Regions from separate parts of the Homo sapiens genome. Here all the other regions are linked to region 3. The links come from fine-mapping of genetic effects on plasma protein levels. A gene starts in region 3. Each other region holds a variant in brackets. All regions are shown on one strand. Distances are from middle to middle.

Evidence for each region. PIP is the chance, under the fine-mapping model, that this variant and not a neighbour inherited with it causes the effect. Protein levels are from antibody-based Olink assays in UK Biobank. Linkage for the fine-mapping came from a reference panel and not from the study's own genotypes, which makes the PIPs less certain.
Region 1: its variant is fine-mapped to the plasma level of the CDCP1 protein (UK Biobank, PIP above 0.99).
Region 2: its variant is fine-mapped to the plasma level of the CDCP1 protein (UK Biobank, PIP above 0.99).
Region 4: its variant is fine-mapped to the plasma level of the CDCP1 protein (UK Biobank, PIP above 0.99).

The regions. Positions count from the first base shown.
Region 1 is chr3:45,083,075-45,091,177 of GRCh38, forward strand. It overlaps CDCP1 (CUB domain containing protein 1), which reads right to left. Exons shown (of 9, transcript NM_022842.5): 7 at 8,099-8,103; 8 at 5,980-6,067; 9 at 1-2,993. The coding sequence ends at 2,564. Among named protein-coding and RNA genes, the nearest start is that of CDCP1, 59 kb to the right of the region's middle. The variant G/T (reference allele first, on the strand shown) is at 6,113.
Region 2 is chr3:45,092,831-45,100,934 of GRCh38, forward strand. It overlaps CDCP1 (CUB domain containing protein 1), which reads right to left. Exons shown (of 9, transcript NM_022842.5): 5 at 2,517-2,738; 6 at 447-827. Among named protein-coding and RNA genes, the nearest start is that of CDCP1, 49 kb to the right of the region's middle. The variant T/G (reference allele first, on the strand shown) is at 2,765.
Region 3 is chr3:45,142,326-45,150,429 of GRCh38, forward strand. CDCP1 (CUB domain containing protein 1) reads right to left here and starts at 4,053. Exons shown (of 9, transcript NM_022842.5): 1 at 3,881-4,053. The coding sequence starts at 3,962.
Region 4 is chr3:45,106,952-45,115,055 of GRCh38, forward strand. CDCP1 (CUB domain containing protein 1) reads right to left here. Exons shown (of 9, transcript NM_022842.5): 3 at 5,132-5,494; 4 at 3,522-3,890. Among named protein-coding and RNA genes, the nearest start is that of CDCP1, 35 kb to the right of the region's middle. The variant T/C (reference allele first, on the strand shown) is at 3,133.

The DNA.
Region 1 (8,103 bases), 59 kb before region 3:
CACCTTGGGTGGAATGCAGGGCACCTAGTCCTGCTTGGAAGGGGCTGGGAGGTTGGGGAATGTCGAGAATGGAGGGCTAGGGCTCCACACAGTGAATTCAAATAAGGGCTCTTCAGTGAGGGAAGGAAGCCGCAGCCCTCCTTTGGCCCTTTATGCAGGGTCAGCATCTCGGCTCACAAGGCCAAGGGTCACTGGGCAGGAACCAGACTTTCAGAAGGGAAAGGTGCCATAGGCAACGCCAAGGGCATGACTTAAATATCCTATCCTCTGGAAAGTGTTCAAGAGGTCTTGCAGTACACGCCATTTAGGAGACTATAAAATTCCTTTCATTTATGCCATGTGAACAAGTTGAGGCGGTGCATTTCCAAGGTGAATTCATTGAATACAATGAAGTACATTTATTTTTTGAAGGAAGTTTTTGCCGCAGAAATATTGAACTTGGGACTGTGCTGACAAGCTATAACATAATCCCTCTCCTTCCAGATCAGAGCAGGGGTGAGGAAGCAAAAGTCCACAGTTACTGGGCAGGTAATTGGTATAAATGAGGGTGTGGGGCTGGATGCGGTGGCTCACATCTGTAATCCCAGCACTTTGGGAGGCCGAGGCAGGAGGATTGCTTGAGCCCAGGAGGTTGAGACCAGCCTGGGCAACATGGTGAAACCCTGTCTCTACAAAAAATACAAAATTAGCTGGGCATGGTGGTTTGTGCCAGTGATCCCAGCTATTTGGGAGGCTGAGGTGGGAGAATTGCTTGAGCCCAGGAGGCAGAGGTTGCAGTGAGCCGAGATTGCGCCACTGCACTCCAGCCTAGGCAACAGAATGAGATCCTGTCTCACATTAAAAAAAAAAAGAAAAAGAAAAAGAAAAAAAAGAAAAAGGGTAATGTGAGCACACATTGGTCTCATGGTCTACTCACCTGATTAGAGATTAATCCCAGTCTTTCTTTTTCATTACAATAAATGCAACCTGCAGGGGCATTGATCAGTAGAAACAAACACTCAGCCTCATTGTGGGAAGTGATAGGGCGTAGTGTGGGCTGTGGTGACCTGGTGAAGTGGACACCCCTTCTAAAGGCAGAGCTGGTGCCCAGCTCCAGCCAGTTGTTGCTAGGTGAGAATGTGAGCCCCAGCATGGCCAGATCTTCTGATCTGGGTTTTTTTTTAAGTGTTAGAGTCCGCAAGCTAAACAAAACATCCCTGTGCGCCAGATCATTTTGTAGCCTCTCCTGTGGGAGTCAGTGGCAGGAAGGTGTGGTAGGCAGAATAACAGCACCCCAAAGATGTTCTGGTCCTAATCCCCACCTGTGGCTATGTTGTCTTGCATGGCAAAAGGCTCTTCCAGGATGATGAAGGAACTTTAGATGGAGAGATTATCCTGGATCTTCCTGGTGGGCTTTGTAAGTCAAAGAGGGAAGTGGGAGGGCCAGTGTCACAGTGATGCCATGTGAGAAAAGCTTGACCAGCCACTGGAGCCTGGGAATGCAGCCAGCCTCTAGAAGCTTGAAATGGCAAGGAACCGGCTTCTCCCTAGAGCCTTCAGAAGGAGCACAGCTCTGCTGACACCTTGATTTTCATTCAGGGACATCCATTTTGGAATTCTGATCCCCAGGACTATAAGCTAATGTGTTGTTTTTAAGCTACCAAGTAATAGGTTGCAGTGGCAACAGAAAACTAATGCAGGGGGCCACTGTTTGGTATATATTTAAACATTTTTAGAGGATGAGAATATTCTCTAAATTTCTCTTTAAATGTCAAAGTATTGCTGCAGCTAGGAGAACCGCACATGGAAACTTGAGGAAATTTCTCTTATTGCTAGGACTATAGGACAATGGGATTCAAGATGAATTTCCACAATGGGATAACCACGAACCGACCTAGAGAATCAGGAAGTCTCTTATCAAAGCAGATATGTGTCAATGCTGCTCAAACACACACATTCTTTTCTGGTTGGACAGATTGTAAATTATTCCCACCACCTGGGGGACAGGCACACGTTTATCTAGCGGTCAGTAGAAGTCACAACCCAGGCATCCAAACCAGTTAGTATGAGTTATTACTAAGTCAGGTGAAAAGAGCTAGGTGGTTATACATTTGATCTCTTAAATAACACAGGACCACCAAATAAATAATAATAAAAAGGCACATTGTCGTTTTCATCCTGGGGACCCCAGTGAGAGTAGGGACCTCAGGTAGGCTCCTTGGAATTGGAACTGTTGTCCTGAAGAGGGCAAGCCTCTGTTTAACACTCTGAATCCAGGGCTTGCTGCAACCCTATGCTAGGTGACTCAGGCCTCTCTCCTCTCATTACAGGCTGGCTAACCGCACAGCCTAAGTTGAGGAGCACATGAGCTGTCATGACTGTATCCAGATTGGAATTCATCATTTTCAATGTCTTGCCCTTAGAATGAGTCCACTGAGCAATGTGAAGTTGGCGGTGTCCAGGAAAACCTCCTGCTGTTCCTTCTGTATAATTCCTCTTCTTTAGGATTTCTGGTTAGGAACACGGACGGGTGTCTCAGTGCCCTGCTTTATGAAACTCAGCAAAGCGTCTGGAATGGATCAAGTTATTCTGCTGGCTCCATGGGCTCCTGAGTGTTCAGTAAGGGAATGTCTGTGTCCTTGCTGCTTACATCCCCATTGTTGGGATGGGAGAAGGTGTACGGTTCACTCTCAGACTCAGGAGGGGAGCGAGGAGGTGGCTCCTCAGTGGCCAACTTTGCAGTTGGGGCCCTGGAGCATATGGTGGGTGGGGAGGGAGGACAGACCCCCATGGTGCCCTGGAACGGCCGGTAGGTGTCCACCTCTGGCTGCAGGAAGGAGCCGCTGGAATCCTGTAGCAGATGCCCATATACCATGGTGTCCTCGATGACTGCATACACATGGGAGTCATTGTCCTTTCGCCCTTTCTGAAACTTTTTTGGCTGCCTCGGCATCTCAGTATTGATGTTGTCATTGTAGATACCCACAGCGGGGCCCTTGTTTGTCTTCTTTTTCCTATTTGGAAAAATGGAACAAGACAGAAGTCAGAAAGGCAAGAATCTTCGATGGGTACCATTGCTATGGCCCTGCTAGAGCTTGGATTCTTTAGGGTTCTGACCATGTCTCCCCCAAATCCCTCAGATTGCTCAGCATTTGAAACTGAAACTACTGTCCTCAGTGAACATTTAGAAGGGACCTGATTTTGTCTCCAGTTTTCAAAGTGGAAACAGAGATCACAGGTAGTAGAAGAGTGGTTTAGAGAGGGCACCTCTATCACTATCTGTGCTCAATTCGTTTTTGATAGATATGCGGTATCCAATGGTGGAGACATCTGACAATCTCTTTCCCCTCCATTCTACCAGAAATGGGCAGTGTCCCAGACCTTCTCAACCACATCAGGCTCAGTCATGCCTAGGTCAATCCTCCCGCACTCTTAGTACTTTCCCGTAGCTCATGCTTTATCTCTCTTTTGCCTGGGAAAAGCTCTGACCATCTAGATTTTAAATGGCGATACAAGAGACTCAGGAGGCCAGGTTGTATCTTAGTTTTCAGTATGAGCTGGGGAGAGGATAACTCAGCATTAGCAGAGAGACCCAGTGCCTCAGTAGTCACCCCCAACAGAGGAAAGAGCTAAAAAGAAGACAAAATTCAGGCTGCAGTGCCAGAGTTCTTCAATAACACCATTAGCATTTGGTTTATAATGTTCTTTGGTACTTGGACCTGCATGGGCATTAGCGCTTGCTGCCACAGAAAACAAAGCTTTGCTCTCCATCTTTGTGAACCAAACAGCAGGGAATGCTGACTTTTTAGCTGACCAGTGATGCAAATGGAGGACATTAGCTCAATTAGCGTAATGGGCCATATAAGGCACAGGCTGGCAGTTCATAATGGTGGACAGGCTGTCTGTACTTTGCTGAGATAAAAATAAACCTGGTACCTTCAGCTTGTAACGCTGAGCCCCTGGCCAGGAGGATGGGTTCCTAAGGCTCCTGCCTGAAGCCCTGTAATGTTTGTCCCCACTAAAGCTCTTCTCATGCTATCCTGAAACTGACTGTTTATTTGCCTGTCTTTTCAGTCCCCCTGCCCCCATAGAAGAGATTGTCTCACTCATCATTGTCCCCAGTACCTCAATGAATCCTAGTGCCCAGGAGACACTCAGGAAGTACCCGCTTAGTGAACATGTTAGATGGCATTGTCTCTCCTCATTCTCACTGCACAACCTGTCCATCCTCCTACAACAGCTTGGGCACGGACAGGCCTTATGCAAACCTGCCAGCCAGCAGCCTCACACAAGCAAGGCCTGTAGCAAGGCTGGACTGACGATTCTCAGGCTTAAACTGGCGCTGTTTCAAGATGAGGCAAGTGCTGGATCTCGTTCCTTGTCCAATTCCCTCCTGATAAGGAACCTGGGGCCCAGTGTTAATGCCATGCTTCCCCAACTGGGTGGGCTATTCCGTGCACCGCAGATGGGAAAATTCCCTGAGAGAAACAGTAACATGATGTTTCCTTAAAAGCAGTCCTTTTTCCCCCATGTGTTATAGGTACAGCCACTTCTCATGGGGAAAAGACCTCCTGCAAGCCAGTCCTTCCTCATCAGCAGAGACATTTGTAGACAGTCTTGTTGTAGACTAGGAATTTCAGTTCTTTGCTCAGGTCCACAGTTAATTTTTAAAAAAGAATTTTTTGGCTGGGTGTGGTGGCTCACGCCTGTAATCTCAGCACTTTGGGAGGCCGAGGCGGGTGGATCACAAGGTCAAGAGATCGAGACCATCCTGGCCAACATGGTGAAACCCTGTGTCTACTAAAAATACAAAAAAAAATTAGCTGGGCGTGGTGGCGGGTGCCTGTAGTCCCAGCTACTCGGGAGGCTGAGGCAGGGGAATCGCTTGAACCCGGGAGGCGGAGGTTGCGGTGAGCCGAGATCGCGCCACTGCACTCCAGCCTGGCAACAGAGTGAGACTCTGTCTTAAAAAAAAAAAGAATTTTTTCAGATTGGCTTTTTGGAAGGTCAAACCATGTTAAGGAAAATAGCTCTCTTCTCTCTCCCATGACTTTAGTCAGAAATATGAGCAGAATTTATACAGTTTGGCGGCAGCACGGACTCTGTCTAAAAAGGTCAACATTTTCCTTTTATAAAATAGAAGCTCAGCCAGGTACGGTGGCTCATGCCTGTAATCCCAACATTTTGGGAAGCCAAGGTGGGTGGATCACTTGAGGTCAGGCGTTTAAGACCAATCTGGCCAATAAGGTGAAATCCCGTTTCTACAAAAAAATACAAAAAAAATTAGCTGGGCGTGGTGGTGTGTGCCTGTAGTCCCAGTTACTCGGGAGGCTGAGGAAGGAGAATCACTTCAACCCAGGAGGCGGAGGCTGCAGTGAACCGAGATTGCACCACTGGCAACAGAGCAAGACTCTGTCTCAAAAATAAATAAATAAATAAATAAAACAGAAGTTGTCCTCCTGAGGGGATGGAAAGAGAGACTGAGGCAGTTAACTGGGCCTTCCTTCCTCTGGGCCACAGGCCTGGCCTCTGTTACATACCTGGAGCCCAACAGGCAAGGATAAAGCAGTTTGCTTAAGAAACTGCAGGAGAACAAGCTGGGACAACACACATTCGTTCTCCTTAGGGTGACGGAGGGAGTGGTTTCAGAGGCACAGTCTGGCAGAGCCTACGTGAGCATTTTCTTGCCAAGATCACTCCTGCTTGATCAATCTACTGAGCAAACAGCACTCTGCTTGCAGGGGACTTGTGCTGAGGCAGCTGCACCATGAACTACATACAGGTGAAAATGTCACGTGTGTTTTATCCCCCCCTCACCCCCAGGCATGGGATTTTTTTTCTCCTGAAAGCATGACTCACACCTGGCAATATTGTTTAACATTGATCTTTGGGGGAAAAAATGGGAAGCAAGAAAACAAAGTCAATAATGAACAATCCACCCAGTCTGTGTGATCTGAGGAGGCATCAAATCAGATAAAGAGAGTAAGAGATTCCACCTACTTCTTTTTCACACAGCAAATGATGAGCCCGAGGGCAGACAGCAGTAAGACTCCACCTCCCACCGCTGCGATGAGGATGACAGTCAAGTCTGTGAGCAGAGACATAAAGAGACAGATGAAGAGGCAGCTGGGGT[G/T]AGCTCTGCAATGAACTTGAGGCATCTCCAAAAGCAGCTGCCATCTCTCCAAAGGTGGAGCGCCATACATGTGGCTCCTTGTGTGCACATGGGGCTCCTCATATCACAAAGTGTTTATTTCCTTTCCTCTTGGATCTGGGTCAGCCAATATAAGGCAACTGTGCCAGTTCTGGGCCTAACTTTTAAGAGGATGTCAGCTTGCACTTTCTCTCTGAGAGAAAGCCAGCTACTATGTAAGAAGTCTGACTATGCTGAGACCACCATGCTGTGAGAAAGCCCAAGCTAGCCATGTAGAGATTCCACCGGGGAAAAAAATCAACCCAGTGAGAACCAAAGGCCATAGACATATGTCTCCAGTTGAATTCTCCAAGCCATCCTCTCTACTTGTTCAAGGCTTCTGGTTGGGGCCCCAGATATCCTGGAGCACAGATAAGATACACTGCTGTGCCCTGTCTGAATTCCTGATCCATAAATCGTGGGTAAACAAAATAGCTATTGCCAAAGCCACCAAATTTTGGGGTAGTTTGTATATAGCAATGAACAATTGAAACAAACTGAGGGACCTACCAGATCAACTTCAAAGGCTACTCCTGGCCTACAACAGGTGTGTTCCACTGATTGCCACAGCCTGTCTTGGAGAAGAGAAGAGCAGAGGAGGGTAGGAGAAAGCAGGGAGTCAAAAGTCAGAAGTGAGGCAGCTAAAGGGAGGGTTGTTTCCTTTGTGCTGTCCTTTTCCTGCAGCTGCACAAAGGAAAAAGAAAATAAATCAGAGGGGGAACCCTGTACCAAACAGCGAATTAGAATGTCTTGCTTATTCACCAAGAAAACAAAAGGTGAGATCCAAAGGAAAGAGGAATGGAAAGAAATGACAGAAAATGAATCTAAGAGAGGAAGAAAACCCAGGATATAATCTATGAGTGTGGAGAGGTTTTCACTTGTGGCATTTGGCTCCCACCAGTTCTCTTGAGGCTAACCAGTTGTGTGGCTTGGATGGACCTTCAATCACTCTGACCCCCAGAAAGGGAAAGGGAAAAAAGCAGCCTCCACAGTCCCTTCTGATTCTGACACTGTGATGCTCGGTGCCTTCACTGAGTAAAGGGCAGACATGGCCCCACCACAGCCTGCCCTGCCACACCTGCATTCCCTTGCTTGATACCCTTTAGTGGTGCCCATGACTTTGAGGAATAAAGGCAAACTCATCATCCTGGCTCCAAGGCCTCCCACTGAGGGTATTTCATGGATTCCAACGTTTCACTGAGACTAAACAAAAAACCATGTACCTGTCAGACTTTTCAGGTCCCCATATTTTAATTCATGACACCGAATCCCATGATACTTTTATGAGGTGGCTATTATTATCTACTCTCTGTAGATGAGGAAGATCATAGGTGTGAAGAGACTTCCCCTACGTAAAAGAGAGATGAATGGTAAAGGATGCTGGTAGATTGACTAAAAAAAATCTAGGCTGGCCAAAAGAATGCAGTCGAAGGGATGGTGTGTGAGTTCCTAACCTAAAAGTATCAAAAGACCTTATATGCCTCCTCCAGTCTCTTGTGGATCTCTCTGCCTCTGCCATGAAAACAGCCCAGGCTGGAGAACAAGAGATCATGTAGAGTCAAGCCAAGTAATCTCAGTTGTCTCAGATGATCTTGGCTGAGCCTCAGCTTTTTGAAAGCACCAAGCTAAGATCAGCAAAGTCCTCTAGCCAACCTGCAGCTGCCAGTAGGTGCATGAATGACTGAGCCCTGATAAGTCCAGCTCAGACCAGAATTGCCCAGCCAACGTTGGAGCAATAATAGATGGCTGCTACTAAGCCACTATGTTCTGGGATGGTTTGTTACTCAGCACTATTGATGCAATAGCTGACTGATACATGGACAGTCAGGACTCAATCTGTGATTCTGACTTGTCTCCAGGCTTGCTCTCTATCCTCCAGCTGACAATTTTTTGTTCATCACTGTCCCCAAAGACCCTGAAGGCCCTTACCCACA
Region 2 (8,104 bases), 49 kb before region 3:
GAGACTCGTCTCCCTCCCAACGCTCCTCCCTCTGTGCTCTCGGCACTGCATTCTGAATTGTAAAAGCAGAGTCATAAAAATGTCTGCCTAAGGATTTTTATGTCACTACCTTAAAAATCCGGGACTGGGGAATATCTGGCTATTTCTCATTTACGTCCTGCCTGCTTCCAAAAAAGACTCAAACCTGATAATGTTTTTGCTGCCTACCAACCATCGCCTCTCACTGTCAGAAACATTTTTTATTTCTAATCTCAGGAATTTTCCATGCTAGGTTAATGGTAAAGTCAGGATTAGGACTCACTATCTTTCAAATTTCTTGTGCAAGGACCAGCATATTGAGCTATCCCTTCTTTCCAAACTGGCAACTTAATTAAGGTGATCACAAAACTAAAATCAAATAAACGCTTAAACTAAAGGGGCATGGAGATAGGGGAGACCCCCCTTACCTTTGAAATAAGGTATAAAGGACACCGTCAGACCCTGCCTGGAGGCCTCTTGTTGGAAGCTGGGGGCAAAGGTGCGAAGGGTCACCGAGATGTTCTGCTTCACCTGGATCTGCTTGATAGAGCCTCCCGGGCAGAAGGAGCCGAAGTACAGGTCCTGGCTGGGTATGGCACTGGCCACGAGGTAGCTGAAGCTGGTGTTGCAGGGCTTCTCGTGTGTATGCTGCTGCAGCTTCTGGGCTGGCACCAGCACCAGGCTGAGCCTGTCCTTGGGCACCAGCAGCTTCCAGGAGAAGTCATGCAGCTCCACAGGCAGGTGGAGGATGTCACTGGGCACCTGGAGTGAGTAGGATTTCCTTTGGCAGTACCGGTGGTCTGTGCAGCCTGGAAGAAGTGGGGCATGCTAGCCATGCACAAAGGAGACCAGAAGTGCACCCTCCCCAGCTCTCCCGTCAGCCTGAGGTTGGGTGTCTGCATGCTGCCCTGTGTTTCCCTTCGGTCTCTCTTCTCCCACCCTGCCCTCTGCTTCTGGCTCCTCTGTGTTCCTTTTCTAGCGGTCCCTCTGCTCTCTTAGTAAACATTCTTACTGTTTACTAAGCTGGCAAACAAACTTCTGGGTAGTACTCAGGGTTGAAATTTCCTCTCCTTTTTTGCTTAAGTTTTTCTTCTGTGTATCTGTGTCTTAGATGCTAAGTGTCATGGGGCAGGGCACAGGTTTCACTCCACCCAGACGTGTTGCTCAGGAGGCAGTTCTGGGCAGTGGTTGGAGCTGTGAGTGGCGTTGGGGAGATGTTAGTTCGTCTTCTGGCTCTGCCACTTCCTAATAGGGTGTTCTTGGGCAGGCTACTTTGCCTCTTGTGGCCTTAGTTCCTGCATTTGAACTAAGAGCACACATCAGAAGTCATGGTAGCCCAGCAAGGAGGTGGCTGTTGGTTTACTGGCCTTCAGTCATCAAACATTTTTTTTTTTTGAGACCGAGTCTCACTCTATTGCCCAGGCTGGAGTGAAGTGGTGCGATCTCGGCTCACTGCAACCTCCACCTCCCGGGTTCAGGCGACTCTCCTGCCTCAGCCTCCCGAGTAGCTAGGATTACAGGCACCCAACACCATGCCCGGCTAATTTTTTGTATTTTTAGTAGAGATGGGGTTTCGCCATGTTGGGCAGACATGTTGGCAGACCAGCCTGCCCAACCTCAAGTTATCTGCCTGATAACCTGACCTCAAGTTATCTGCCTGCCTCGGCCTCCCAAAGTGCTGGGATTACAGGCATGAGCCACTGTGCCTGGCCAATCAAACATTTTTCAAGTGACTAGTGCATGTCCAGCACCGGTAGGGGCTAACTGGATGAAAAATAGAACGAGTCAAAGTTCTTGACCTCAGGAATCACAGTCTTGTGTGAGAGAAGACAAGAGGGCAGTGAGTGTGGAAGTGGGGGTGTGGGGTGTGGGGGGATGGGGATGGGAGAGGCTGGGGAAGTCTGAGCAAGAGAGGAGAGGATCTCACAAGAGGAAGATTGGAAGGCTGGGCAGAGAGACATAAGCCTGAACATGGGGCAGTATGACACAGTTCTGAGGGCTGCAGGCTCTACCTGAGGCTGGTCCAAAGGGACGTGTTGACACCCACTCTGCTTGCCTCCTGGTCACCCTTGCTCACCTGCACTGTGGGTGGGGTTTTTTTTTTTTTTTTGAGTCTTACTCTGTTGCCCAGGCTAGAGTGCGTGGTGCAATCTCGGCTCACTGCAACCTCCGCCTCCCAGGTTCAGGCCATTCTCCTGCTTCAGCCTTCTGAGCAGCTGAGATTATAGGCGCCTGCCACCATGCCCAGCTAATTTTTGTATTTTTAGTAAAGATGGGGTTTTACCACGTTGGCCAGGCTGGTCTTGAACTCCTGACCTCAAGTGATCCACCAGCCTTGGCCTCCCAAAGTGCTGGGATTACAGGCGTGAGCCATCGTGCCCGGCCAGATGGGCCTTTTTGATATGATTTACAACCTACCCAGGGAACCCCACTAAGGCAAGGCGGGGAGAGAAGAGCTATCCATGGCCAGGGACAAATGCACTGATTCAGGGGCGTACTTATGGTTTTTTCCACATTCATCCACAGACGTGTCAGATCATCACAAAGGAAGGAGATTTTGTGTTTGGAGCCAGATGTCAGGGTGAGGTTGCTACTGCAGGTCCGAGATTCTAGACACACGAAACAGCCAGGGACAAACTTGCGGCTCTGTTTGACGGGCCGTGGCTCGATGGTGAGTGACATGGCTCGCTCATTACTCAAGTCAACCACGTAGATTTTATCTGAAACCACAAACAGAAAACAGGCA[T/G]GAAGCATGGATCAGCAGCAACACGGGAAATGGCAAAAATTGGTAGAAAACCTCTCCTGAGGAAGAAAATGGCATATCAGACCATGGATGGATAATGTTGGGAAAACGTATTATTAAGGCAACATTACAATAACTATAAAAGACAGTTAAAAAGAAAAATAATGGACTTCACTACAATAAAAACAAAGAGAAAATCATTAAAAATGTGGCATAAACACAAATTATAAAAGTGAAAAAAAGATTAAAATATCTGTCTGATGATAGGTGCTACAAATAAGGTTAAAGGACAAGGGACACGTCGGGAGAAAGTGTTTGCAATATAGAATGATTGAGCAGCTCACAGGAAAGGAGATATAAATGACTAAATATTTAAAATATAGAAAGTTCTTAATGTCACTTGTAATCAGAAAATGCAAGTTAAAACAAAGTGTTACTGTATCCCACTCCTCAGATGGGGGGAAATGTAGATGTCTGGCAATACTGAAAGCTGGAGAGGCTACAGGAAACAGGCCCTTTGGCACACGGCCAGTGGGAGCCTGGAACACCCTGTTACAGAAACATGGGAATTAGTAAAAGAATGAACTCTTGTCTCTTCTGGGAACCAAACAGTGTGACATGGCCATGAGTGCCCACGTTTAACTGCAGCACTGTGATTGTGGGAAACTAGAGACCACCTTATACTGGAATAGATAAACTATGGGGACATTCACCAATGGAATATTACGGAGCTGTTAAAAAGAATGAGGGAGGCTGGGCACAGTGGCTCACGCTTGTAATCCTAGCACTTTGGGAGGCCGAGGCGGGCAGATCACCTGAGGTCAGGAGTTCAAGACCAGCCTGGGTAACATGTTGAAACCCCGTGTCTACTAAAAATACAAAAATTAGCTGGGTGTGGTGGTACATGCCTGTAATCCCAGCTACTTGGGAGGCTGAGACAGGAGAATCGCTTGAACCCGGGAGGCGGAGGTTGTTGAGAGCTGGGATTGTACCACTGCACCCTAGCCTAGTGACAGAGCAAGACTCCGTCTCAAAAAAAAAAAAAAAAAAAAAAAAGAGGGAGATTTGAAAACCTAAATATAAATATTGAGCAGAACAGCAAGTTGTAGATAATATGTAGAGTATGATACAATGCAGATGGTAAAATCTCTCCGTGAAACAAAATAGCTATTTATATATACAGACTTATGTATGCAGATGAAGAGAAAAAAGATCTGGAGAGAAATATGACAAATCCGTGACTGTGGTTACCCCAGAGGAGGGGCCTGGGAGTAAAGACAGACTGAGTGGTCAAGGAGGATTTTAGCTTTGCCTATAATATTTAAATTTCTAACAAGAACATAGTTACCTATTTCTTGCATCATTTGGAAAACTGCTGGATTATTGGTCATTTAGGTGATTTCTATAATTTTGCCATTAGAAATAAATGAACAGTGCCAGGCATGGTGGCTCACACCTGTAATCCCAGCACTTTCAGAGGCTGAGGCGGGTGGATCACTTGAGGTCAGGAGTTGCAGACCAGTCTGGCCAACATGGTGAAACCTCATCAATACTAAAATACAAAAATTAGCTGGGCATGGTGGTGGGCGCCTGTAATCCCAGCTACTCGGGAAGCTGAGGCACGAGAATCGGTTGAACCCAGGAGGTGGAGGTTGCAGTGAGCCGAGATCCCGCTATTTCACTCCAGCCTAGGCAATAGAGCAAGACTCTGTCTCCAAAAAAAAAAGAAAGAAAGAAAGAAAAGAAAAGAAAAAAAGAATAGGGATACCTTTTCAACTCTTTAGAATAGATTACCAGATTGGTTTATAAAAGACTCATTTCACTTTTTAATGTTATCCCTAGAAAGCTCTACACCACAGATGCCTGGGGATCAACTTGTACTGAGTTGCTTTTGAATTTCATTCATTCTTTTGTTTAAAAAAAAAAAAAAAAAAGCCCATCAGATTAGGAAGGCGCCTGTGCAAAGTGGTGCTAACTTTGCAATTCAAGGGTGTTGACAATATCACCCATCAGCGCCGGCGAATGAGTTCAATTCTAACTGGGAAAGCTCTATTTCCAAAAAGGCCTGCTAAACTTCCTTCTTCCTCATAACAGGAACCATATAATTGATGGACTCTCTCCTCTTGAACTGGCTGCAGGGAAGCTCGGTGTCAAATTAGTAGCACAATTAGGAAAATGTTTTATGGCTGTCATATCTGTTAATTGCCTGCTGTAGTTCTTGCTGTCTATTTTCCACGTAAATTTTGACATCACATCCAATAGTGCTTTAATTAGAGAGATGCCATGTCTAGAGCTGAAGTATATATTCTAATGCTGCTAACTTAAATATAATTTGATTTGGAAAATAGTCAGCTTTTCAATCACCTGGCCCCACATCCAGCTCATTTCTTACTGTCTTTCAAAACTCACCTTCATTGTTACCTGCAGGACACCTCCCCACCCCAAAGCCGTGTTAGAAGCCCCTCTGCTTCTGCAGTCCCTGCTTACCTTTACCAAGGCCCCGCCACACACTGCAGTGGTCTCCCCACCCGCTCTTCCCTCATTTCCATCTTACCAAAGCCATGCATGCACATACTTTAAAGCAGAGATTCTCAGCCTTTATTATTATTATTATTATTATTTTGGGGGACAAAGTCCCACCCTGTCACCCAGGCTGGACTGCGGTGGCGTGATCATAGCTCACTGCAGCCTCAACCTCCCAGGTTCAAGCGATTCTCCTGCTTTAGCCTCCTGAGTATCTGTGAAACAAAACAGCTATTTATATGTACAGATTTATGTATGCAGATGAAGAGAAAAAAGATATGGAGAGAAATATAACAAATCCGTGACTGTGGTTACCCCAGGGGAGGAGCCTGGGATAACCGCAGTAAAACATGCTCTGTTCCATTGCTCAATAACACACTCCGTTCCATTGCTGCCTATGGATCTTTCAGTTTCAGGCACTGTCTATTGGCTTCCCACTCAGGAAGATGTGGATTTCTCCTCCTTCACCCCACACCCCCTCCACACCCCACACCCCCACAACACAGCACAGACTAGCGAACACTCACACCACACACACTTCCCATTCCCATTCTCCCATCTTCCTGATAGTTAGCGTCATATTTTCAGCTAGATCTTCATTCTATGTTTGTGTAATCGTGACTATGTAATAATATTAACAGTGTTTAGGTAGCTACACTATATTGCATGCTATAATGATTTTTCCTTTCTGCATAAAATTTTGTGTTCCCTGTAGTGAATTATTATCATTTTAATCATTTCCTTAGTTTCTATGTACTTATCAATAATTTGATACCCAAACTCTCTTCCACTTGTATAAATCTCCTTTCAATAAATTTGAAAACATTAGGTACTTCCTCAACTTCTTAAGAAATCTCTCCAGAGCCTTTTCAATGCTCTAATCTAAAGGGGCTGCTCTTGATGCCTGGTGCTCAGGTGTGATCCTGGATCTCCTTCACTGTTATCATGGGATTCCCTTTGCTTCTCTCTTGGACTAGATCCTGGGCTTCCTGGATCCATCTTTTCTTTTCTTTTTTTTTTTTTTAATTTTTACTTTCTTTTTAGGTGGATTACAGCCTTCAGGTGCTTCTTGAGAAAGTATATATGGGGGTAAATTTTTTTAGATCTTGTAGGTCTAAAAATGTCTTTATTCCACCTTCACACTTAATTGTTTGGCTTGGTATAAAATTCTAGGTTGGAAATAATATTCCTTCAGAACTTTGAAGATCTTACTCCATTGTTTTATAATACCCAGTGTTGCTGATAAAGTTTGTTGCCATTTGGTTTCTTCTTCCTCCGTATAAAACTTTTTTACCTCTTCTCTAGAAGCTTGTAGGGTCTCTGTGTCCCTGATATTCTGAAATGTTACAATACTGTGCCTTGGTGTGGGTCTATTTATATCCATTGTGTGTGGTGGCCCCTTCCAGTTGGCAACTCATATCCATCAGTCCTGGCAAATGTTCCTGAAATATTTTGTGATGATTCCCTTCCCTCTATTTTTTCTCTGTAAAACTCCATCTATCCGGATATTGGGCCTCCTTGACTGGTCCTTGAGTTTTATATTTTCTCTTTCTTTCTATCGCGCTGGCTTTTTCTTCACTCCACTTTCTGGGAGATATCCTCAACTTTATCTTTCAGCCCTTTTGACTCTTTCATTTCTGCTAACATATTTTTAATCTCCAAGAGTTCCTTTGAACTCTTGGAGATTAAAAACGAGCTTTCTCCTGAAAGCCCTTTTTAAAAATTACAACCGGTTCCTTTTACATAAACGCAGCATCTCTTCTTATTAACTTGAGAGTCTTGATAGCTGATTTTTAGTTTTTTCTCCCTCTATAGTCTCTGTTTCCTGCAAGTGGCTTTTCTTCTATTCATTTGTTTTAGTCTTTGTATTTTTCATTAGGCTTCACCAGATGTCTGGGGATCTATATACTGCTCTTATTTAAAGTGAGGCACTAATGCTATTTGGAATAGCTCTGCTTGTTGACTGGGCTTCTCAGTAGGGTGATATGGCCAGATTGCTTCCTGGGGAGCCCATAACATCAATATCTTTGGGTCTTTTCTCTTAGATTGGTCAGATGCCCCCAGAGAAGAAGTCATTCTCTACCGAAGGGAAGAAACATACCCATGGGCACCAGGGAAGGAAGGATGGAGCCTCATGCTCAGTACTTCAGTTTTACTCAATCCCCCGTGTTCAGCTTAGTACCTCCACCTTCAGTGTGACTGGGATCTTTGGTTCAGGGACTCTCATCTCAGGAAAAGAAACTTCTCTCTTCTGTCAGCTCAGGGAAGAACAGTTGTTTGGCTGCTTGTTGGCAAGGAGACCATCTGGGGCTCTAGTGGCTCTTCCCACCTTAGCCCCACATTTGCCCCCAGTTCTGGAGGAGACTTGCTGCCAATTCTTGAGGCTTTGCAGGATAAAGCAGATTTCTTCTTGGTTTTTCCCACTGTTGGCTTAGGATTCTGCCCTTTCACATCTGCTGGATCAGTTACCACCTTTCTACTCTATGAAATGTTATACGATATTTTTTCCTTTCTATTTCTCTTTCTTCCTTGAATTTTATGTCTTTAAAAATACAAAAAAATTGTACCTTAAAAATGTTTTAAAATGCTTTAAAAATGTTCTAAGAAAACCCATTATAGTAGGGTGTATGAAGGGAGTAAAGCCATCTTTAACAGGAAGTCATGATTTTCCTTTTACTTGTTCATCTTTCCCACCAGAATGTGAACTTCATGGCTCCACATAACTGGTATATGGTAGAGGATCAATTACAATGTTAGGCTGTTCATCCTCATGATATCCTTGAGGGAGTGTGTAAATCAGCTGAGGCTAAATTATGCTGC
Region 3 (8,104 bases):
AAAACGCAGGTGAGGCTTGTGTTATAAGCCAAGGGACCCAGTTCTGTTTTCTTTTGGCAAAAAAGCACTGGTGAGCTATTAGTACCATCCAGCTGGGGTGGTGCTTCTAAGACTCTTGAGTCTGCCCAGCAACACTGTCCAGATTCTATTTGCCAAATTGGAGGGAGGAAAATGCTTCTTCCATAGATGCTGGTGAAACAACAGTGAGGAGAGCCTGGGAGAATGTGAGAAACAAGCACTAACACACTGATGGCTGGAAAGCACACCAGGACAGGCTCTCCACAGGTGACATGGAAAGACGCATCCAAAGCCCTAAGAACCTCTCTACTCTTCATCCCAGCAATTCTGCTTCCAGAACATGGAAATACGCAACTAAAGCCCTAAGAGCCTCTCTACTCTTCATCCCAGCAACTCTGCTTCCAGAACACGGAAATACGCGTGCAAAGACCTAAGAACCTCTCTACTCTTCATCCCAGCAACTCTGCTTCCAGAACGTGGAAATGCGCGTCCAAAGCCCTAAGAGCCTCTCTACTCTTCATCCCAGCAACTCTGCTTCCAGAACTGTAGCTGGACAAAATAGTTAAGAATGTTCAGAACATGGGCGCGGTGGCTCACGCCTGTAATCCCAGCACTTCAGGAGGCCGAGGCGGGCAGATCACCTGAGGTCAGGAGTTTGAGACGAGCCTGGCTAATATGGTGAAACCCCGTTTCTACTAAAAATACAAAAAATTAGCTGGGTGTGGTGGTGCACACCTGTAATCCCAGCTACTCAGGAGGCTGAGGTAGGAGAATAGCTTGAACCTGGGAGACGGAGGTTGCAGTGAGCCGAGATCGCGCCATTGCACTCCAGCTTGGGCAATAAGAGTGAAACTCTGTCTCAAAAATTTAAAAAAAGAGTGTGCAGAACAACACAGCTGAAGAACACATTCTTAGATACATCAAAATGGGATAATCCAGTTGATACCATTTTATAACCTTGGCAACATGAGGATAATGGTTCATCCTTTCATGTCATTTTCTAGTCTGTGCTATGTAATTTCAAGTGCCTTTTCACTGAATAGACCTATTAAAATTGATACAAGCAGCTGGCTATTGTTGGACGTGTTCTATTTTTAATAAGAAAAACTGGAAGCAACTTAAATGTCCAACAACTGGGGACTGGTTAAAGCCATACAATGGGATGATCCCATTTTTGGTTTGTGCACATGAGCGTGCATACATACACATTAAGAAGACTGCATCAAAGTGAATAAGGCAGTTTGCTTATAGATAATTTTTTTCCATTTTGGTTATATTTATTGCCACTTTTTCTACAATAACTATATGCTACTTAAAACATCTTAATTATTAACTTCCTTCCCCCATATTGATAGCCAGGGAGAACACCCAGAAGAGTGTGTGTGTGCACATGCAAGGCGTGCAACCATCATAGATGAAATGGCAGCATCTGAGGTGAGCCCTAGGGCTAACAGGTCTGACTCCAAGTCATGCAAATCTGTGGGGATGTGGGGGAGGAGATGGGGGAGACTCATCAGCGCTACCAGTTACACATTCCAGACAACAGCCAGTAGCTCCTCATTTGAATCGGAAACAGAATGAACACCCACACTCACCCAGGGAGTGTGAATATATCATTTGATCTGTCTGCTCACATTTTTGGCAAGAGACAATGGTGGCAAGATTGGGGTCACTGACCCAGACTCTGGTATCTGAGTGGTTCTTAGAAAGCAACCAAATGGAGGTTTTCAAAAGGCTATGATCCCAATGTAACCAGTGTTTCACTCTTGGAAATGGGGGAGTTGGTGGGGATACCAAAGTCACACAAACACACGACACCAAGACACAAACTTTCCTTTACTTTTCATCTCTGCAGTGACACCAAATTCATTTTTACTCTGCTGAGTCTTTCTTTGTTAAGAGACTTCATGGATTTATAAAACAAATCCACTGTGCCAGGGCTCTGGCTTTCTGTATCCTTTCAGGACAGTCTCCAGGAATTTCTCAAAGGCCTTTGCCACTTAGATCCTCAAGACTACAGGCAACTACTCCAACCACAAAAGCTCTCAGTTCAGCCTGATGTACCCTCAAAGGGCCAGTTCCTGAGACCATAGGGAGGAACTTAAGAAAGCGAAAGGGAAAGTTCCTAGGTTTCTACGTATTTATGTATTGAACCATGAGACAGGGCTCAGCCAGTCAAGGACTTCCTGGAAGGGACTCCATTGGAGTTACTGGACCAAAATGGCAGCCTTCCCAGATCACAGGGAGAAATGAGACCAGGAACAGAGGCTCTCATTATTAGCAATGCCTTGATTAACACCCTGTTCTGACTGGAAGAGTTCCCCACTGTTGTCACAGAAAGCCAAAAACATCTCAGATAATTCCCAGAGTTTCAATACTGTTCCAAGACTGGTAGGCACGCATTTTTCTCAGCACACATATACACATATTTTCACTTCCTTTTTATTCTTAAACTAATTCTTTTTCTTCAAAGGGAATCTTGGAAATTCAGTCCTAAGAAATTATAGTAAATATTCATCAGCCAGGCACAGTGGCTCACATCTGTAATCCCAGCACTTTGGGAGGCCCAGGTGGGAGGATCACTTGAGCTCAGGAGCTCGAGACCAGCCTGGGCAACACAGTGAAACCCTGTCTCTACTTTAATATATATAATTTATATATATATTTATAAATCCATGCCATGGTTTAAATGAAGTTTTAAATTTTCTATCTACTATGCAGCAATATGTCACCTGATGTTGGAGAATGAACCAGGAAGTATTCCTGGAGCTTATATTGATATTTTAGAAGCTCCTGTCTTGTATTTGTAAAGACGGCAGTCACCGGGACGCCCAAATTCAACCTCACTTGCGTCCTTTTATTCCTTTATCTAATTTACACCTGCCAAACACAAATCCACCCTAGATGCAGCAAGGGGAATCAAACCCACATGGCTTCCTGGAGAGCTCTATTTAAAAAACACAAAACCTGTACTAATCTCGCGAAACCTGTACTAGCCTCACATCAAGTTCTTACATGAAGAAACCAGGTTATTTACTACGTTCTAATACATCCAGGGCCCACAGGGCATTTCCTGGCTGGCACAGGTCACTGGGACGTGTTGGTCCCTTCCCCCAACCGAAACAACTCGAAATTCACACATATCCCCGGAACAACAGCCTCCTGCCCTCAAAGTCCACTGCCAAAAAGTGCGAGGGGCGCGGGAATGTCCAGTCTCTGCGGTGGCGCAGATGCCTGGCGGCTTTCTCTGGGACCCCCTAAAAGAAATCCGGGCGCTTTCATTTTTGCACCAACGCTCTTCAACTTTAGGAGAGGGGGAATGCAGCGTGCGGACGGGAAAAAGGGGATCTAGTGGGAAATGCGGACGTGAAAGCACTTTTTTTGCACCTTCTCTCTGGACCAGGCGAGGAGGTAGAGGGCGAGCCTGGAGAGGAAAGATCTCTTCCCACACCCTGCCTGGGTGCTTTCAAGAATCCCGGCAAAGACCCTGGGGCGCACGGCGCGCCACCTTGGACATGTCGCCTGGGATCGGCTACCGGGAGCTCCTTTTCCCGCCTTCTCGGCCAGCACCGGGCTCATCCTCCCGGACCGGGAGGCTCCCCGATCGGGGACACTCTCACGTGCCGAGGGCAAGGTTGACTCCAGGAGGGCAAGGCCCACGCGCCCGACGCGGCGCGCGCAGGAACCGAACAGTCCGGGGGTCCCGGAGCCACCCGCGCATTTTGACTACGCCGTCCCCGCCCTCTCTCCGCACCCTCCGCACCCTCCGCACCCTGCGTCCCTCGGCCGCATCTCCGCCGGGCGTCCGCTGGCTGGCTAGCTCACCACTCCACGCCATCCGCCTCCAAAGCCCGGCACTCACCTGCCCCGCGCGGCAGGCGCGCCGCACCCAGCAGCAGAACCCCTAGCAGTGCGATAGAGACCCCGCAGTTCAGGCCGGCCATGACTCCGGGACGCCTCGGCCTCGGTGGGGAAAACGACGGTGGGGAGCGGCGGCCCCAGGCGCCCAAGCCCGGCGCAGCTGCGCTCCGCCCTGGCTCACTCACCTGCGCGCGGGCGGACCGGCCCGAGCCCCGCCCTGCGCAGCAGGATCGCGAGCTGACCCGGTGCGTCCCTCCTCTCTCTCCTCCTCCTCTTCCTGCCTCAGCGACCGCCTCTCCCTCCCAGGGTGCAGGGCTCCCGGCACCGGGTTGCTGGGTCCCTACTACTCCCCATTGCGGCGTTGGAGCGGACTTGTCCCCACCTTTCCGGGCTTAGTCTTCCTTCCCAAGTCTGAGAATGATGAGGTCTTTTTCTCCAGAGTCGCGAAGGTCGCCCATAGAGGAAGCCAGTCTACCTTCCCTTTTCTGTCGAGGAGACAAAGGCCATTATGCGCCTCGTTTTGGAGAAGAATCCTATTTGTGGGCCACCCAAGCCCTGGATCCTCTGCTACTTGACTTGGGCCAGAGGTCTGTTGGACTTTAAAGCCGGTGGTGGTACAGCTAGTATTTGCAGGACGGTGAGCCTGCAGCCTACTCCACACACATCACCTGCAGTATTTCCAGACACGCAACGTGTCCAAGGTCCCCAGGGTAGCTAGTAAATTAGAGGCAGATGCACCACTTCGTTGAATTGTGAGTAGAGTAGTATGCATCCCTTCACTGAGCTGTGGATGGAGTAGTATGTGCCCTTCTCGAGTTGTATTATAAATGGAGTAGTGTGTGCAGTGTGAGCGTGAAGCATTCAGGTCAAACGTTGGGCTGGAAAATGAATGAAAAATGAATGGCGCTGGACTCCTTTTCCAAATCCTCCCAGCCGCAGGTGTGCCACCTGCCTGTCTTCAGAGGCCCTGTGGGTTCTCCTTCCACCCTGCCGGCCATACACCAAGTCCAGGCCACAGGCAGAGATTGCGGATGGTTCAGGAGTTCTTAGCTAGCAGACCTGGGTTCTGCCAGAATGACTCCCTGGGACTACTTGTGTTCATGGATAGCCAGAAGCTGGGCCAGAGTCACCCGGAGCAACCTGGGAGGCTTGGGACAGGAACCAAAGCATGTGCGACAGCATCAGTTTACAGTCCAGTCCCAACTTCTGCTTAATTCTTGCGGGCACTGAGCCTCTCCAGGCTGCCCCAATCCTCCTTGTGGACAGGGGTGGGAAATCATCTCCTAGGAGCGTCACCCCTTCCTTCTCGATGTCCTTAATCATGAGAATAGAGCTAGCTCTGCCCTCTGGGAGCCCACAGTCCATCGAGGGAGGCAGAACTTGGAACATGACCCTGCCCACACCCCCACCTCTGGGAGGGCCTGTATCGTGAGCTAAACGGGACCTTAGATGTAATCTTCTAGTCCACTTCTGTCCTTGTGCAGAAAAATGGGAAAACTGAGAACTAGAGGGAAGGGAGAGGATGAGAAACGAAGAGAGGCTCTTGGTTCTCCCCACTGAATCGAGGACAAATTCATCAAGAGAAAGAAATCTTGACAAAAATCTAAACAATCTTTAAAAATATTTATGCTGACCAGGAGGGTGAAAGGAGATTTGTCTTTTCTCCTGATTCTAAGCAGGCATATATATCCCAGCATCTTTTCCTAACATCCATGACACCATTGTTTCCCACATACAGTAATACCCACAACAGTACTAGAATGGCAGTGTATTGAATGCAAAATATCAGAAATATTGCTTGACAAGTTAAGCCTAAGGAACAAGTTATTTCCTTACTATTTCGTCTCTCCAAAGTTTGCTTAACTGTCTTTCTTGGGATAGTTGACACCAGCTTTCTGAAAATGGAATGAGAGTCACTAATTCCCAAATATGAAGCATTGGTGGTGGTTCCAGAAAGTAGCAGCAACGAGAAAGAAGAAAATAGGGAGGCACTTCAGCATCCTTTGCGTGACAACCCAACTACATAGTTGAAGTAAAGATGTCCTGACATACTGTCCTGGTCCTCCAAGTGGAGTGTGAACAAAGCATTGCCAAGAATGGACATGTTTTGTCTTTACAAACATGGCTGAATGGAAGGAGTAAATTTTAAAAGGTTATTTCTGAACTGGAAAGCAACGTAGGTAACTATAATCTAGTGCTAGAGAGAAATGAGAGATTGAAAGGTAAATTTTCGGCTGGGTGCAGTAGCTCATGCCTGTAATCCCAGCACTTTGGGAGGACAAGGTGGGTGGATAACTTGAGGTCAGGAGTTGGAGACCAGCCTGGCCAACATGGCAAAACCTCATCTCTACTAAAAACACAAAAATTAGCCGGCTGTGGTGGCGGGCGCCTGTAGTCCCAGCTACCCAGGAGGCTGAGACAGGAGAATTGCTTGAACCTGGGAGGTGGAGGTTGCAGTGAGCTAAGATTGCACCATTCCACTCCAGCCTGGGCGACAGAGTAAAGTTCTCTCTCTAAAAAAAGAAAAAAAAAAAAAAGGAAGGTGAGTCTTAAAACAGACTGTCCCATCTAATTTTGACCTCTTCTGAAACCCTGCAAAGGCTGTAAAACAGGGATTAAAAAAAATTACATAAGCCCACAAAGGTGGGAAGAACAGAGAGAAGACAACAGCAAAATCACCCTGGAAGCTAGACAGCAGCTGGACTAGTGGTAGCTGCCTTAGGAGCCTGGAGATGGCAGAACCCTAAGCCAGTAGTGGGGAAAACTCAGAAATAACACGATTAACACAGAAATCCTCAAAAAAGATCCTCAGGAAATGGCAGCACAAGGTATTCTGCAACTGGAGGGTGAAAGAGGAGTTAAACAAGAAAGGCTAGAAGAAAGCTGTTTGAGAAGTACTGTGGTTAGATCCCAGAACCCATCCATCATTACCCTTGCCTGGGCAACAGTCCCTCGTCCAGCTTCCAGTGTTGTTCTTGAGAAATCCAAAACCATTCTCATTTTTATTATTTTCTTTGAGACCCTTTTCTTGCCTCTAAAGCTGTAGAATCTTCTTTTTGTTCATTGGTTTCTGAAATTTCACCATAATGTGCCTTGATGTGAGTCTGCCTATATTATCGATCTTTAGATCTTGACAAGTTAGAGGGTTGGTAAGCTTAACAACTTTAGTGTTGTCTTCTGGAGAGATTAAAACCTAGGGATGTGGGCTGAGGGATGCCAGGCATAGCTGAAAGCATAGGAAACATTGTAAAAGTAGGTAAATAAAGGGAAGATATGCATTCTGAATGCTGAGATCCCCAGCTGTCTGGCCCCAACCTGCATCCAAGGATGAGACAAAAAGGCTTTGTTATCCATATTGGGGATGGAAAAAGTCTTCTTCTGGGGAGTCTGACCAGCACAGGAGGAAAGACCCAAACATATGGACATTAGACCCTCATAAACAGGCCAACCAGCTTCCTACCATGAGGCTTTCAATTAAGCCCCACCAACTTAGCTTTTTAATATCTCATTTTAATTTTAATTTTTATTTATTTATTTTTTTTGAGATGGAGTCTCGCTCTGTCACCCAGGCTGGAGTGCAATGGCGCGATCTCGGCTCACTGCAACCTCTGCCTCCCGGGTTCAAGCGATTCTCCTGCCTCAGCCTCCCAAGTAGCTGGGACTACAGTTGCACACCACCACGCCTGGCTAAGTTTTGTATTTTTAGTAGAGATGAGGTTTCACCATGTTGGCCAGGCTGGTCTCGAACTCCTGACCTCATGTGATCCACCCACCTCAACCTCCCATAGTGCTGGGATTACAGGCGTGAGCCACTGTGCCTGGCCAATATCTCACTTTTAAACATGAGCAATCAGGATTTCAGGATATCTGAGGAGAGCTTCTAACATATTAGAGTCAAAGCCAACCAAGTAACCAAACCGAGAAAAAAGAAAGAAAGAAAGAAAGAAAGAAAGAAAGAAAGAAGCAACCTGAAAGACTATACAAAGAGAAGAAAATAAAAGGAAGCAAAACAAAAAAATTACTAACTCTCTTAGAGTGATGTAGGCAACTATAATTTGGTGTCAGACAACATTCTCTCTGTGAAGCAGGAACAGCATGTTATAAAAAACAAAACAAGGCCGGGTGTGGTGGCTCACACCTGTAATCCCAGCACTTTGGGAGGCTGAGGCGGGTGGATCACCTAAGGTTGGGAGTTTGAGACCGACCTGACCAACATGGAGAAACC
Region 4 (8,104 bases), 35 kb before region 3:
ATAGAGCTCTTCCAGTGATCATGAGCGGCACACACCATTGGCACAGATGGGGCCTCCTGCACAGCCTGAGAAGGGCCAGACTCTGCCCAGAGTCTCCCCTTAGTATTCCTACCAGCTGCGGTCCACTCTCCTGCCTCCAACCTCACCACATGCCATTGGAATTCCTTCCATGAGTGACTTGCTGCATCCTACCAATCATTTCTGGAGCCACAGTCTAATCTCTTTGTTTGAACAAGTGTTGTGTCTTTCTTTCCTTTCTTTCTTTTTTTTTTTGAGATGGAGTCTTGCTGTGTTGCCCAGGCTGGAGTGCAGTGGCACAATATTGGCTCACCACAACCTCCACCTCCCGGGTTCAAGCGATTCTCCTGCCTCAGCCTCCTGAGTAGCTGGGACTACAGGTGCCTGCCACCACGCCCGGCTAATTTTTTGTATTTTTAGTAGAGATGGGGTTTCACCATATTGGCCAGGCTGGTCTCAAACTCCTGACCTTATAATCTTCCCACCTCGGCCTCTGAAAGTGCTGGGATTACAGTCATGAGCCACCGCGCCCGGCCCGTGTTGTGTCTTTTCTAACCCTGCATGCCTGCCTTGACCTAGAACCCTGCAGGAAACATTTAAAGAGCGCTCACTACCTGCCAGGCACTGTGCTACCTCACACTGTCCTCACAACACCCCGATGAGGACAGTCTTACCACTTCCACTTTACAGATGAGCAACTGGGTCACAAAGAGGTGAAGTGACTTGCCCATGGTCAAAGTAAGTGGGGGAACCAGATTCAAATCCATGCAGGCCAACTCCAGGTCATTATCCTTAATGGGGCTATGCTGCCAGCAATACAAGCTGCCTACAAACACTTAGCAAATGAGAGAGAATAAAGAATGAGGGCTGGGAGTGGTGGCTCACACCTGTAATCCCAGCACTTTGGGTGGCCGAGGCGGGTGGATCACTTGAGGCCAGGAGTTCAAGACCAGGCTGGCCAACATAGTGAAACCCAATCTCTACTAAAAATACAAAAAATTAGTTGGGTGTGGTGGCAGGCGCCTGTAATCCCAGCTACTCAAGAAGCTGAGGCAGGAGAATCGCTTGAACCTGGGAGGTGGAGGTTACAGTGAGCTGAGAGCCGAGATCACGCCACTGCACTCCAGCCTGGGTGACAGAGCAAGACTCTGCCTAAAAAAAAAAGAAAAAAAAAGAATGGGTCAGACAAACAGGTAGGGGCACAGGACTGGCTTCCTTGGGCTAGCCCTTGAAATTTAGGGTCCACATAGAGGTTCAGAGGATCAAGATGAAGCTGCCCAGAGATCAGAGTTCTCAGGCAGTCCAGCCCAACCTAAATTTATCCCCAAAGATATTTCTGCCGCCAAGTCCACTCACTCCGCTAGAAACAGTGCAAAGTTAGAGGGCTTGACACTGCTAAACACCTCTCAACGGCAGTTATTGCCCTTTAATCTCAGCACTAAATCCATGTCCTTCTTGATGCTGTTTATAGCACGTTTAACAATTTGATTAGTTTTAGAAATCAACCCAGCTGATGTTACAGTTAGCAGAATTAATCAGAGCTTCTAAGCAGCATTCCACCATGACTGAGGTGATAAACAAATCCCCCTGTCTTCTAAACCCCAAGCCCACTCCATTTCTAAATCCTTTTGTGGCTGTTTTCAACATTCTGATTGTACAGTTGTGACAGTGGAATCATAAAAATGTCTCAATGGATACACACACACACACACTATATATATATGTGCATGTATACATATATATATGCATGTATACATATATATATGCATGTATACATATATATGCATGTATATATATATATGCATGTATACATATATATGCATGTATATATATATATGCATGTATACATATATATGCATGTATATATATATATGCATGTATACATATATATGCATGTATATATATATATGCATGTATACATATATATATATATGCATGTATACATATATATATATATGCATGTATACATATATATATATATATATTTTTTTTTTTTTTGAGATGGAGTCTCACTCTGTCACCCAGGCTGGAGTGCAGTGGCCCAATCTCGGTTCACTGCAACCTCTGCCTTCTGGGTTCAAGCAATTTCCATGTCTCAGCCTCCCAAGTAGTTGGGATTACAGGTGCGCGCCATCATGCCTGGCTAATTTTTGACTTTTTTGTAGGACGGGGTTTTGCCACGTAGGCCAGGCTGGTCTCGAACTCCTGACCTCAAGTGATTTGCCTGCCTTGGTCTCCCAAAGTGCTGGGATTACAGGCATGAGCCACCGTGCCCGGCCCCTTGTATATATATCTATACACACATTATACATACATACATATGGACGTTTCCAGGGCAGCACCAGTTGGGCAATCCCTCTAGTGGATCCCACACTGCCACTTTTCAGATGCTTATCAGCCCTACAAAAAACAGCAGCACGCCATTCCACACTCCCACTTAATTTTTCTGCCTGGCTCTGCCTACTTCCTAGAAGTAAATAATAGTAAAAACAAGAATGAGAATCAGCCCTCTGAACAGCGTCCATCCTTAGCAACACACATCAGAAATGTCCTGGTTGGAGACCACTTGCCACAACTCACTCCTTCACATCATGCATGAGGCCCAGGAAGAGCCAGTCTGAGTTAATTTTGTATCTTTTATCTCAAAATCTGCACGACACCCCTCAGGGCCAAGACTGGGGTGAGGCAAGCCAGGCACCTAGGGAGCAAAGTTTAAGGAGGTGCTCACTCTCAGGGGCTGACCTTGCAGGTACATGACCCTGAGAGTGGGTACCTCCTTATATATTGCACCCTGGGCACTTTGCCTTACCCTAGTCCTGGCCTTAACTCCGCTTTTCTATGTTCATGGCATCTCAGCAACTTTTGTGGAATGATGTCCAACCTAATTCTCATCATCCTAACTGGGCTTCAGTGTGGGCCAGAGCACAGGCTCAGGGTTCTGAGCTTGCTCTGCTCTTAACAAGCTGTGTGATGTCAGGCCAGTTCCATAACCTCTCTGAACCTTCTGGTTTCTCATTAGTAAATAAAGATAATTCCCACCTCCCCTACAGGGTTGCAATAAAGATTAGCTGAGATTGTGTAAGTGGCGTGCCTAACACAAGATGACATGCAGAG[T/C]ATGTGTCCATAGTAGGGGTGCTGAGCCATAAAACTGTAAGTTCCCATCATCATCGCTGATGGTGCGGGTGACATCCTCATTCACATTGCAGGGTCAAGACATAAGATCTAGAAAAATGACCTTTCAATGCCTTCGTTAAAAACAATTTAGCATCTTGAATGCAAGATTTCTTTTTATTGTGCTGAAATGGAACTACATACCGGGTGTTCACCAACAAGCCTGTCTAACTGCCTAGCAACCCACTTCCTGAAACTCTTGCTGGGTCCAGAGTCTAAGTGTTTCAGAAGCCACAGATGAGAAACAGGAAGGGAGCCTCACCCAGGCAGACTACCCAGGAAACAACGAAGGTGCTGGAGGAGGAAGAAAAAGGAAAGTGGGGCTCACTCACTGCTTTCATTTTGTGGATGTTGGACCAAAACTTGGAACTGCAGCCGGAGGATCCCTGGACTTTGGGCATCTTGGTCACAGCCTTGCAGAGAGAGGTTGAAGTTCCCCGCCATGTTCCCAGGCTGCTTGTCCTCCAGCTTGAACACCTCGGGGTTGGTGGTGGAGCCCGGGATGTAGTATTCAACCCGCTCCTCCTTCCTCTCACAGTTGGAGAGGTTGAAGTTGAGGAAGGAGACGCTGGCCCGCAGGTGTGCAGGAACGACAAACTGCCACGTCATGAGCTCATCCTCAGGGAAGCCTTCTGGGTAGTTGGCAGACATCAGGGTTGCTGAGCCTTCACCCTCAAACACAGACTCGATGATGCACAGACCTAGTGGGAGTGGAACCCAAACCAGAAAGAATAGGGAGCCATTAGACCCTGTCCTGGTTGTCTGCAGCCGAGGGGTGGGGGTGTAGGAAAAATGACTGCAGTTCTCAGATCCTGAGCAGTGGGTCTAGATACTGTATATTTGGACTCAAGGCAGAGATTGGGAATGCAGACACATCAGTGGTGTGCGAGTAAATATTAAAAACCGGTCCAGTGGTAGAGGGGAGAGCCCTGACTTATAGCGTCTGCCCACTTCCATAGTGGATGTAAATAATCCCACCACGGTTGATTTCAAGCTACCAACACCAGGTGACTGAATGTGGAGTTGGGCAGTAGCACACCTTTATATTATTCCCTCCATACAGATACGACAACACAAATAACCCTGAAAGCACAGGCAACAGTAAAATAATTAGGAAGTGATGAGTTTTGAGTATTTATTACCTTTGTTTTAAAAATAATTTATTTAATTATGTTAATTTAATTCTATTTTTTTATAACGGATCTGTTTCACATCAGCTCACAAAATGCCTGAACACTTAACAGTCAGCTCTCTGCCAGGTGCAGTGGCTCATGCCTGTAATCCCAGCACTTTGGGAGGCCAAGGCAGGAGGATTACCTCAGGTCAGGAGTTCGAGACCAGCCTGGCCAACATGGTGAAACCCCGTATCTACTAAAAATACAAAAGTTAGCTGGGTGTGGTGGCGCACGACTATAGTCCCAGCTACTTGGGAGGCTGAGGCAGAAGAATCGCTTGAACCTGGAGGTAGAGGTTGCAGTGAGCCAAGACAGTGCCACTGCACTCCAGCCTGGGCCACAGACTGAGACTCTTTCTCAAAACAAACAAAAACAAAAATAAAAACAAAAAACAGCTTTTATGAGCCAGTGTGAGTGAGCTCTGCACATCACTGATACGTTTACAGAAAATGTGAAAGAGATGGAAGACAAAGAAGTTAGAAATGAAGCAATCAAGGTGGGTCTGTAGAACCAATCCCTTGTCATTTTTTTGAAAACAAGTATCACATGCAAAAAGGACAAAGAGAATCACCCCGTTTGTTTAATAGAGAAGAGGGGGTTCACACTAGGAATGCATGACCCATGTCACTTATAAGAGAGCTAGATCTTCCTTTATGGTTTTTATATTGAGTATTAGAGATTTGCTGACATTTGACCATTTCTGACCTAGAACAATGATGATCTTGTGTGTTTTAACCTAATCAGATAGCAGGGAGGGGCTTTCTCACGTTTTATAGATGAGCGGTTTGCAATGCTGAAGCCGGAGACATTTCTGGGGTGGAACCATGGGAGGTGTAAGGCCATTTTCACTCCTTCTTGCATCTTGATCCGGGACACAGTGCCATTGCTGCAGAAGGTTCCGATCCTGACCACGGTGGCATCGATTCGGCCGCTGATGGAGTGAGTGACTCCGTCTGGGCAGCTCTCACCCGGACCGATCTGCCTCAGGCGAGGGATGGAAAACTGCAGCTCTAAACCGATGCTCTTATGAGCTTTGACATCCCAGATGAAAGTTCTGTTGAGGGTAGGCAACAACGATGTCGAGGGCTGAAGCTGAACCTCCCCAAAAGGACATGGGCCTGACATACAGTCTGAAAAACAGTCACAGAAGCAATTTTGATCACAGATGCTCCAAGGCCCCACACCACTCCTCCTCCACCACTCAGCCCCCTGTAGTAGACTCTTTGGGGCTCCCCCAAGGTGGCCTTTACCAGGCAGGGGCACCCAGGCCCCAACTGCTGTGAGTCTTAGTGGCCAATGGCTCACAGATGTACCCTCCTTCGGGGAAGTGCCTCAGCTCGGGGGAGCTGCCTTGAACCAGAAAAGCCTGAGAGGTGTTGCAGCCCCTCATGCCCATCCCAAGGGAGAGGTGCTGTCTACAGCCAATAATGGCCTCCTGCAGGAATTAAAAAGTCTGACCTCCTTGCTTCAAGTGATGTAACCTGGGTATGCCATTCATACTCCAGAGCTCCCCATGGGGTCAGGCTGAAGCTACTCTTCAGCTAAAACCGCATCTGCATTCAGCTACGTGCCCTGCTCTATCCTGCTTTCCTCACTTCTGAGAGCACTTTCTTGATCACTGACTTAAACAAAAAATCCTGTCTCAGGCTCTGCTTCCAGGTCACCAGACTTGAGACATCTCTTAACTACTGTGATTTCCAGATTAAGTTCCTGGGGTCCAGTGGGTGAAGCCAGAAGGAAGGCATTTGTAGCAGAGTCTGTGCTTTGGGATCTCCTACTTCTCCTGTACTAAGAGAGTCACGATTTCACAATTTGTAGAGCACAGTGCCAAGATCCATCCTTTAAAACTGGTTTCCCCATCAACACATTCATCAACATAGCAAATATACTCTGAACGTGCAACTCCCCTGGACAGCTGGAATCTGGCGGCGCCATTTCTCTTCTTGCACTGCCTTAATGCTGATATTTTATAACCACTGCAGTTGAATTTCTTTTTTTAAGGCTAACAGCTAATAACATCCTTTGATATATTTGTTTCCTAAGCCTTTTAAAACAAAGCAAGAAATATTATCAAAGAGAAAACAAGAGGAAAGTGAGGGGACGAAACAGAAAGTAGGCAATGTAACATTAAGGTTTTGTTGTTTTGAGCAGGGGGCATCTGAAAGGTGTGATAGACTCTGGCCTCCATAATAATAATTTGTGAATCTTTACTGCTGTTCTATTGGGGTATTTGAAAGTATTGTCCACTCAAAATAGAATTATGGAGAATTTCAGATCAGTCTTGGATCTCTGAGGTCATCCAAGCCAGACCTCTAATTTTTGCAAAGCAGCTGTGGATCCAGGTGACTTGGGCTGGCACTTGCAGCAAGTACACGGCAATTCCAGATCCCAGGACGAAAGCTCAGGCTGTGTTTGGTCAGCCCTTTCTTGCCAATGCGCTATGCTGTCTAACCAATAACACAGGGTTAGATAACATGGTGACTAACGTGACTAAAATTAGACTTTGCGTGTTAGTAAAGGTAGTTCCTATTTTAGGAGCTCATGGAAACTTCAATGTTTATATCAAGCCACCTCTTTCTTTCAAAAGCAGACCTCAAGTGATTTTCCACGCACACCTCCAGTGTGCCCAGGGCAACATCAGTTGGCTCTGGCTAGGTTCTGTACTCTTGTGGAAACATTTAACTCTAGTAAGGCAGTGACTCTTAGCTCTGGTTCTACCTACAACTCACCTGCAGGCCGTTTAAAAACTACACATGCCTGGACCATCCCAGGGATTCTGATTTAATTCTATAGTAAAATCTGGAGTCAAAAAGCCCCATCTCCCAGCCTCAGCTCTGTCAGCAGCCATGTGACACTGTGAGAGTCAGGTTATGAAAGCAATTTTTCATTTGATGCTAAGAGCTTTGTTTTTTAGGATGAACACACAGGTAAGAGTAGTCAAAATGATTGGCATGCCTCGGAATCTTCTCCTGTACTCTGTCCAGTGAAAACATTTTAAATAACTAAAATGATTCCTGTCCAGAGGATGGAGAAGTATTATTTCTGAAGTGATTCATAAACTCATTTTCCCCAGCAGATTTCTAATTTCATTAACTCTCTTTTTTTTTTTTTTCTTTTTGGAGATGCAGTCTTGCTCTGTCACCCAAGCTGGAATGCAGTGGCACCATCTTGGCTCACTGCAACCTGTCTCCCAGGTTCAGGTGATCCTTCTGCCTCAGCCTCCCAAGTAGCTGGGACTATAGGTGTGTGCTGCCATGCCTGGGTAATTTCTTTTGTATTTTTAGTAGGGGTTTCACTATGTTGACCAGGCTGGTCTTGAACTCCTGACCTCAGGTGATCCATCTGCCTCAGCCTCCCAGAGTGCTGGGATTACAGGCATGAGCCACCATGCTCAGCCAACTTTCATTAGTTCTCATGGAACTATTCAAGAAGAGATGAGAATGGAGACATCAAATTTTATCTGATGCTGATTTCAGAATGATTGTTCAGAAAAGGCAATGAAGGGCAGGTGGACCACTGGACCTGATTCAGTGTCTAGATTTATTATTTTAGAAATTGATATTTTCATATCATTTTCAAAAGTTGTGAGCATGGGTTTTTACTACATAGTAAGCCATGTGGGCATCCTAGGATTGAGAGACTGAATGCATTCAAAGGCTTGACTTGTGAAATGTGTCACTTGTTACATTTTTCCTTTTTCAAAGTGGAAGTCACTTTATTGGTTTAACTGATTATAAAAG